Linked DNA regions of Homo sapiens. The protein of the gene in region 2 purifies or fractionates together with the protein of the main gene of each other region. This does not show direct contact. Each region holds a gene or a part of one and is shown on either strand. Other genes may lie near its edges.

The links.
Region 1: the proteins of DYNLT3 (region 2) and CDH11 fractionate together in Homo sapiens (co-fractionation; one large-scale study listed by BioGRID). This does not show direct contact.

What each region holds. Positions count from the first base shown.
Region 1 is NC_000016.10:64,943,731-64,947,563, forward strand, and holds the end of CDH11 (cadherin-11 isoform 1 preproprotein), read right to left. Parts: 3' UTR 23-3,833; downstream 1-22. UniProt on the Homo sapiens protein: Cadherins are calcium-dependent cell adhesion proteins. They preferentially interact with themselves in a homophilic manner in connecting cells; cadherins may thus contribute to the sorting of heterogeneous cell types.
Region 2 is NC_000023.11:37,838,336-37,841,786, forward strand, and holds the end of DYNLT3 (dynein light chain Tctex-type 3), read right to left. Parts: coding exon 3,447-3,451; intron 2,771-3,446; coding exon 2,693-2,770; intron 2,317-2,692; coding exon 2,240-2,316; 3' UTR 501-2,239; downstream 1-500. UniProt on the Homo sapiens protein: Acts as one of several non-catalytic accessory components of the cytoplasmic dynein 1 complex that are thought to be involved in linking dynein to cargos and to adapter proteins that regulate dynein function.

The DNA.
Region 1 (3,833 bases), on a different chromosome or scaffold from region 2:
ATAAATCTGCCTCATCAGTATATTTGCTTTCATTCAATAGATATTTATTGTGTACCTGTTATGTTTCAGGCACTGTGTAAAGAACTGAGTATACAATGGTAAACAAGAAAGCAAGATTCCCTGCCCTCATGGAGCTTACATTCTAGTGGGGCAGTCAGTCCCACCCACCCACACACATACATAAAGCCAAAAAGCAAAATAAGTTTAAAGAGTTGTCATCGATACAAAATAACAAGGGTGACCTGCTTTCCATGGAAAAGGAACGTGTTTTTTTTTGTATCAGGAACCGAAAGATGGCCAGTGTGGCTGGAGCATCGTGCACTGAAAGGAGGATGGAGTGGAATGACACTGGAGAGGTTCGCAGGGCCCTGTTCATGTAAAGCAATAAAATAAAGGCATCAGAATTCATTTTAAGTCTTTGGGAAGCCAGTGAAGAGGTTTAAGTTACGAAGTCATGTGATCTGGGTTGTGTGTTAAAAGTATCCCTCTGGCTTCTTTGTGAAGAGGAGGTTGGGAGGCAGAGGGTGAGCCAAGAGGTGGGGTCAGTCTTCCGGGTCAGAGATGACCATGGCCCAGACCAGGCTGATGGCAGTGCAAGAGCAGAGAAGTCTTTCCTCTTCTCCATCTCCAAATTACTGAATTATTTCAGGCCCTCATTCTATCTCATATTGACCTTTGCAAAAGCCCTCCTGGGGCACACCTCTGGGTTTATATGCTCCTAATCTGTCCTCCACACTGCCTGCCAAATAAATTTTGCCCCTCTTCTGCTCAGAGACTCCAACTGCCCAGCCCCCATTCACCCCCATTGTCTTATAAAGTTTCTCAAAAAGATGTGAAGGATATGTCACAATGACCCAGGAGCAGTTTCAAATACTCCTGACCTGGTTCCACCTGACATACAGAGCCATGATCTCTATATTTTTAAGCAATTCTCCAAGAGGTGCAAATAAACTACTCTTTTATCTTCCCTGTCACCCCCAGAAACCCAGGCCTAAAAGAAATAACTTAGCTAAACCCAAGATCTGTCCAGAATTGCCACAGCTGGCCTAATTTCCGCTCACACTCTATATCTCACCATCTCCTTCCTGTTATATCTTTTATGTTCTTCCTTCAATTTGGAAGGAGAGAAAATATCTTCTTGCATTTTCTAGGAGGGCAAATAGGTAAATAGGTGATTATAAGACAACAAGGTGGATACTTTGGTACAGGGCTGAATTATCAAAAGATGTCAGAAAAGGTAGTAAGATTCATTCTGAATCCTCCAGTAAGTGGAACAGGGTTTATAAAATAAGATTTTGATGAATTAATGAATGAATCAATGAATGAATGATGACTAGAAACAATAACCATTACTTGAGGAAAAGAACAGAAGCATGTTCCTTCTTTTAGCTGCATAGATGGTATAAAACAGTGATTACTTTAGAATAAGGAAGGACCGTTTAAATTAAGACTTCTTTTAAGGCAATGTGCTCCAAATGAAAAAGGACTCCACTAGTTGGGAAAGACATTTTATTTCCAAGTTTCTAAGAGTGTTCTACAAACAATAGAGGCTTAACGAAAAAATAAAAGGTAAAAAAAAAAAAAAAAAAGAAAAAGAAAAACAAGTATTCTTAACTACTGAAAAGTAAACAGCCTTTTTAAAAAAGACTTCAACATAAAAATGCGAAAATGTAGTTGTCATCTCTAATCCAAATACATTCCTAGAGAAAAGGATCATCCATGGTGACAGGGTTACTTACAGCTGTATACTTATTTAAATGCTATTCATATTCCTTTTGAGTTATTTCTTCATTGCAAATTCAATTGGAGATCTGTGCAAATCTAGCAAAATATTCTTTGGATTACAAAAACTATATAAAAAAATGAACACAACCTGCAATTATGGAAGTATTGAGAATGTGTAATCCTTCACTGAGATGAAAGATTCTAAAGTGACATTGTCCACAAAATGTATTCCATTGAAGTGTTCAGCCCAATTTGATTTCAATGCAAAGTAAAATGGAAGTGAGCACTTCATAAAAAACATTTCTTTGTATGCATGTTGACTAAATCATAAAAATAGTACATAACATGATATCAAGAAATGCTTGAAACAAACTTTCACAATAAAGTCAGAAAAAAACTGTAAAAATTGTCTGCAATCCAAGAAAAAGCACGTGCCCTGTGTGTAGGGGGAAAGAGGGAAAGCACTTGCAGTGTGACTTTATGTGGTCTTTCCCCAAGTATTGCTACGTTTTGACCTTTGGCCCAACTGAACAGGTGAAATGCCCTTCACATAAGTTTCAATCCCCAAGAAACTAGCTGGAATGCAGGGGACTGTAGACACACTCCTGGACCAAATGGCATCGACTCTCAGAATCCAAAATGGTCCCTGCCCTCATTCTGAGCTTACGGCCCCAAGCATATTCTAAACAAAGCTTTTTTAAATGAATCGCCCATTCTCATTAAAACATAAAATGCCACATCATTTTACAATTAGTTAAAATTACAGGAGGAAAAATAAGCAGTTTCAACTATCAAGAGTCTTACAATAGCCTGGTAAGTTCAACAGAAGAAAAAATAGAATAACATTAGAGTCTGGGCAAATTTATATTTTTGACTCTAGTCCCCCAGTTCCCCAGTGCTCAGTGTGGGGCATAGAATGTATACCTGGAACATTAGAGTTCTGATAGCTCCATTCCCTCATGGATTCATCTCTCATAACCATCAAATTACTGATATACAAGATAAATGCATACTATATAACACATATTGCAAAGTCATAGACTGACCTAGTTCTTTCACATCCTTCTTTTTTAGAAGATGTGTGTGAAGAGAAGCCAGGAGGTTAACACCAAGAATGTACAAAAAAGCTTTACATGATGTTACAGAATCTTGTCTGAAAAAACATTTGTAAAACATATTTGATTTTAAATAAACAATAAAAGCAGCAGACAGACAACAACAGATCATAAATAGGGTTATTAAAAGATCACAATTAAATTAGAAATATAAATGGATCATTAGAAATACTTAACGTTTGTTTCAATGTTAAGAATCAAACCCAGAATTAAAAAAAAATCTTTTTTTATTTCAAAGATTGCTTCTTATATTGAAGCTCATATTAAAGCAACAGTACAATGTTCATAAAATATAAGTGTGATGCCGTAACATTTTCTTACATGTCAGAATACTGATATTTATACGTATACTAAAATAAGAACTTTAAAATTGTACAAATAGATACATTAAAAATGACATAGAAATAGGGCGTCTCTCACTGAAACAAGACAGTTATATCTGGCACGTATTAGTTTAAGATGAAAGTAGAAGCAAAAAGATTTACAAGAATCAGCAGTAACAAGATTGATGCTCAAGAGACATAATTGTACATTGTATTGTACATACATTGTATGGGTTTAAGCTGGCTGAATATTATATATTTCAAGTTTAAAAATGCACTACATATAGAGTGTCCAGAGTTTAAGGCGAAATTACAGCTCAGAACTGTTGTCCTTTCTAATTTTGTGGAAGCTTCTTTGACAACTTAAAAAAGAAGAAAGACTTGGATGTTCATAACACATAAACAATTTCCCTTCATTGTCAGTTCAGCGTTAGACTTCTCCTTCACTTAAATATTTTGTATGCCAAGTGTTTTTTTTTTCTAGCGAAGTTGATAAACAACTTCAATATTTGCCTTTTTGTGAGAAAAGGTATTTCACAGTATTTACCACTTTGATGTCCTCGCAGTTTTATTAAATGTATCCTCTCTGTAAAACTTTGCCTGTTTTAAATGAGCCTTTCCTTGATTTAAAAAAATACCTGTTTACACATCTTCTAGATTCTTGAGAACG
Region 2 (3,451 bases):
TTAATTATGTTGTAATGGTAAATACTGGATTTGGGCTGCTATTTTAATGGTATTTATTCTGCATAATATGCATAATATATCTATGTGGTCCCATATTCATTTATCCTATTTAGAATTGCTTTCTTTTTTCTTTTTTTTTTTTTTTGAGACGGCATCTTGTTTTGTTGCCCAGGTTGGAGTGCAGTGGCACGATCTCGGCTCACTGCGATCTCCGCCTCCCGGGTTCAAGCAATTCTCCTGCCTCAGCCTCCTGAGTAGCTGGGATTAGAGATGTGTGCCACCACGCCTGGCTAATTTTTGTATTTTTAAGAGAGATGCGGTCTCACCGTGTTGGCCAAGCTTGTCTCAAACTCCTGACCTCAAATGATCCACCTGCCTCCCAAAGTGCTGGGATTACACAGGTGTGAGCCACCACCCCCAGCATTTCTTCTATTTAGAATTTCTAAGAGCAAGCAGAATGTCATTTCTCTAACTATTAAATGATTATCCAGAAGCAAAAGTACAGCACAGGAAGATAATATTTATTATATTTTAACTAGAAACAGAGCAGATAGCAAGTTCACCAGGTAAAAATTTTTTTTCTTAAATTATGCTTAAACAACAATAATAAAAAACAAGTCTGCATGTATATTTTGGTCACTATTATGATCTTCCAGGGCACAAAAGCCAGCAGCATAAAGAAACATGAATAATGACTGAGAATTTTTGATGTGCCAAAAACAAAGATCACTGCATTAAACTCCTTTATTTTGTTAATATTATTCTTAAACATTGAACAATTATTAATTATTGTTATTTGGCAAAATATCAAACATGCACATAGTATTCCTACAAGAATATTGCCTTAATATTGTCAATATTAACGCTAAGCTTATTCCTCTCCAAAATTCAATGAGTTATGGTTCCGCTCTCTATATGTATTAGTGTTAGTGGTAATATGCAAAACTGATTTTGTTTTCAGGGTTAAGTAGCAGATTGACTTCGCATTTGGTGGCCAGCTGTGTACCCTAATTTTTCATCTATTTTCTTAATAAATTTAATTACATTTCATAAGCCCTGAGATAACGTGCTAAGGATTGTATACTTTTAATCTATACTTTATTCCACTCAATTTGAACCCCACATAATAAGTCTTTTAAGTTATTTACAGATGGTTGTAACTAAAGCAATGACAAAATTTACTACTTGTATAGGTAAGACTGATAATAAGGCCTTTAACTAAGAGTTGCATATTTTATATGCACTTTTAACTTGCTAGGAGCAACTCTTAAAATTACATCTATAATTCTGTCAGAAAGCAATAAGTGCTTTTCATTTTGCTTACTTCCATATGTGTAACCAGATTCACTTTTTTCCTCCCTTGTAAAACAACTACTTTCTTTTCCTTCCCCAAATATTAATACGTCTTCCAACTGAACAATTGCTAAAAGGAACTTAGCATTTGCACAGCACATTGACAACTATGGTGCTTAGCAGAGACATATGCCCATAATAGGCATCTGATAAATGTTTGTTCCACATGGAATGAGTGAATTGTAAGGCAGCTGTTTGAGTCATACACTGTTCATCATATACTGCAACTAATTTTATTTAACTAGGAAATTCAGTTTACCAGATTTAATTTACCCTCAAGTGTAAATCCAAAAATTTGAAATTAAAAAAAATTGATTTACTAATCCTCAGAAAAAGTAAACAAGTTAATCATAGTTGTTACTATACTATTAGTTGATAGAAAATTAAAAAAATTATTACTTTCCACTAAATATTAAGTACAACTGAGGGGAAGAAAGTTTAAAAAAACTTAAAAATGTTAGCTAATTCTCATCATTTTCTCCACATTTATCCTTGCAGCTTTTTTGTTCATATATTTATTCCTGTTAACTTCTCTAGCTGAAAGAGAATTTTATTATCTGAATGGAGTTCCCCATCACCTTAGGTACAAAATATTAGTGAAAAGCTGGTGTAAATATAAGATTGTATTTTCATGTCATGCCATATTTCTAAATTTATTTTTTGCTAGCATTAAATTTTTCCTATTTAAACGATGCTGTATAGAATATGAGCTAATCTGCCAATTACTATGATATTGCTTGCTTATAATATTCAGTTTTTGTTGATAGCTTTAAAGCATATTGCACGCTTTTCATCTAGCACACTAGTAAACAACTATTACTCTTTTTGGAAAGGATACACTGACAAATTCTTAAGTTAATGGCTTTAGCCCAACATTTTTAGTCAGTTAAAGAACAATAGCAATGGCAAAAACGTTGACAATACAGTTCATGGTCCGGTTCTCCCATCTTACGGTACAGGTTCCTGAAACACAAAAAAAGGATTTTGAAATACCAGCAAAACATAAAAATTATCAGAGAATATATATATATATATACACACACACACACACACACACACATATACACACACACACACACACACACACACACACACACACACATATATATATATATATATACACATACATTTTTCACATGTTTTAATATCTTATTTCCTTCAACCTGTTAAGTTTTCACATTTCATATCGGTCTGAAGGTATACTTGTTACTAGGTACAAAGCAATACTGTTGATAGTCTTTTCAGAATTTAATCAGAATTAAATAAGTACTTGGTTAAAAAGTGCAGTTTGACTTTGCTAAAAGTTGGATTTTGTGTAAATCAGCTTAAGATCTCTTACCATCAGATGTGGTATCCCAAAAACAGGAGCTGGCTGTGTGAAAGCCATATGCGCTCTTCTGGACCACTGCACAGGTCACTGCAAATAAAGTCACAGAATGAGGGCACTTACAGACAAAGGAAAAGAGAACCAAGGTCAAAGTGTGTGAGTTCAGAGCTCTACAAGCCGAAAACAAGACAAAAAACAAACAAACAAACAAAAAACAGAAAACAAAGCGTTCAGCAAATAGATTGAAAAAAAAATAAAAGACTCTCATCTTTATCTACCATCATGATTTTGACCCCACTGGATTCAGTTGGTTTTCTGACCATTGTCATTACCATTGGTGATTGTATTGCAGGAAAAATATCAGTCAAATTCTGTGCTTTGTACCATGGGCAGAATTCAGACACAGAAATGCAGGAAATACTCCACTTTATAAACAGTTGCTGTGTGGAATTACAGGTAAAGAGGCATGGGACTACCGAAAGAAACACAGTTGAGCTAAGGGGGGGTCTCAGTGGAAAGAAAGAACTGATGGAAATGCAAAGGGTGATGCTACCAAAGAAAAGTAGCTCAAACTGCCTTTGAGTAGTGAAAGATCTTCATCTTTTAAGTATTATTATAGATTATCTTTGAATGAGTAAATCAGAAGTCCTTTATACCCTTTTAGTATCCAACTTAAATGTCTATTGTACATATACCTTCTCAAAATTCAGAGAAAATCACAATGACAAAAGCAAGTGAACTAGTGAGGAAGGATACTGATACTTACCAATA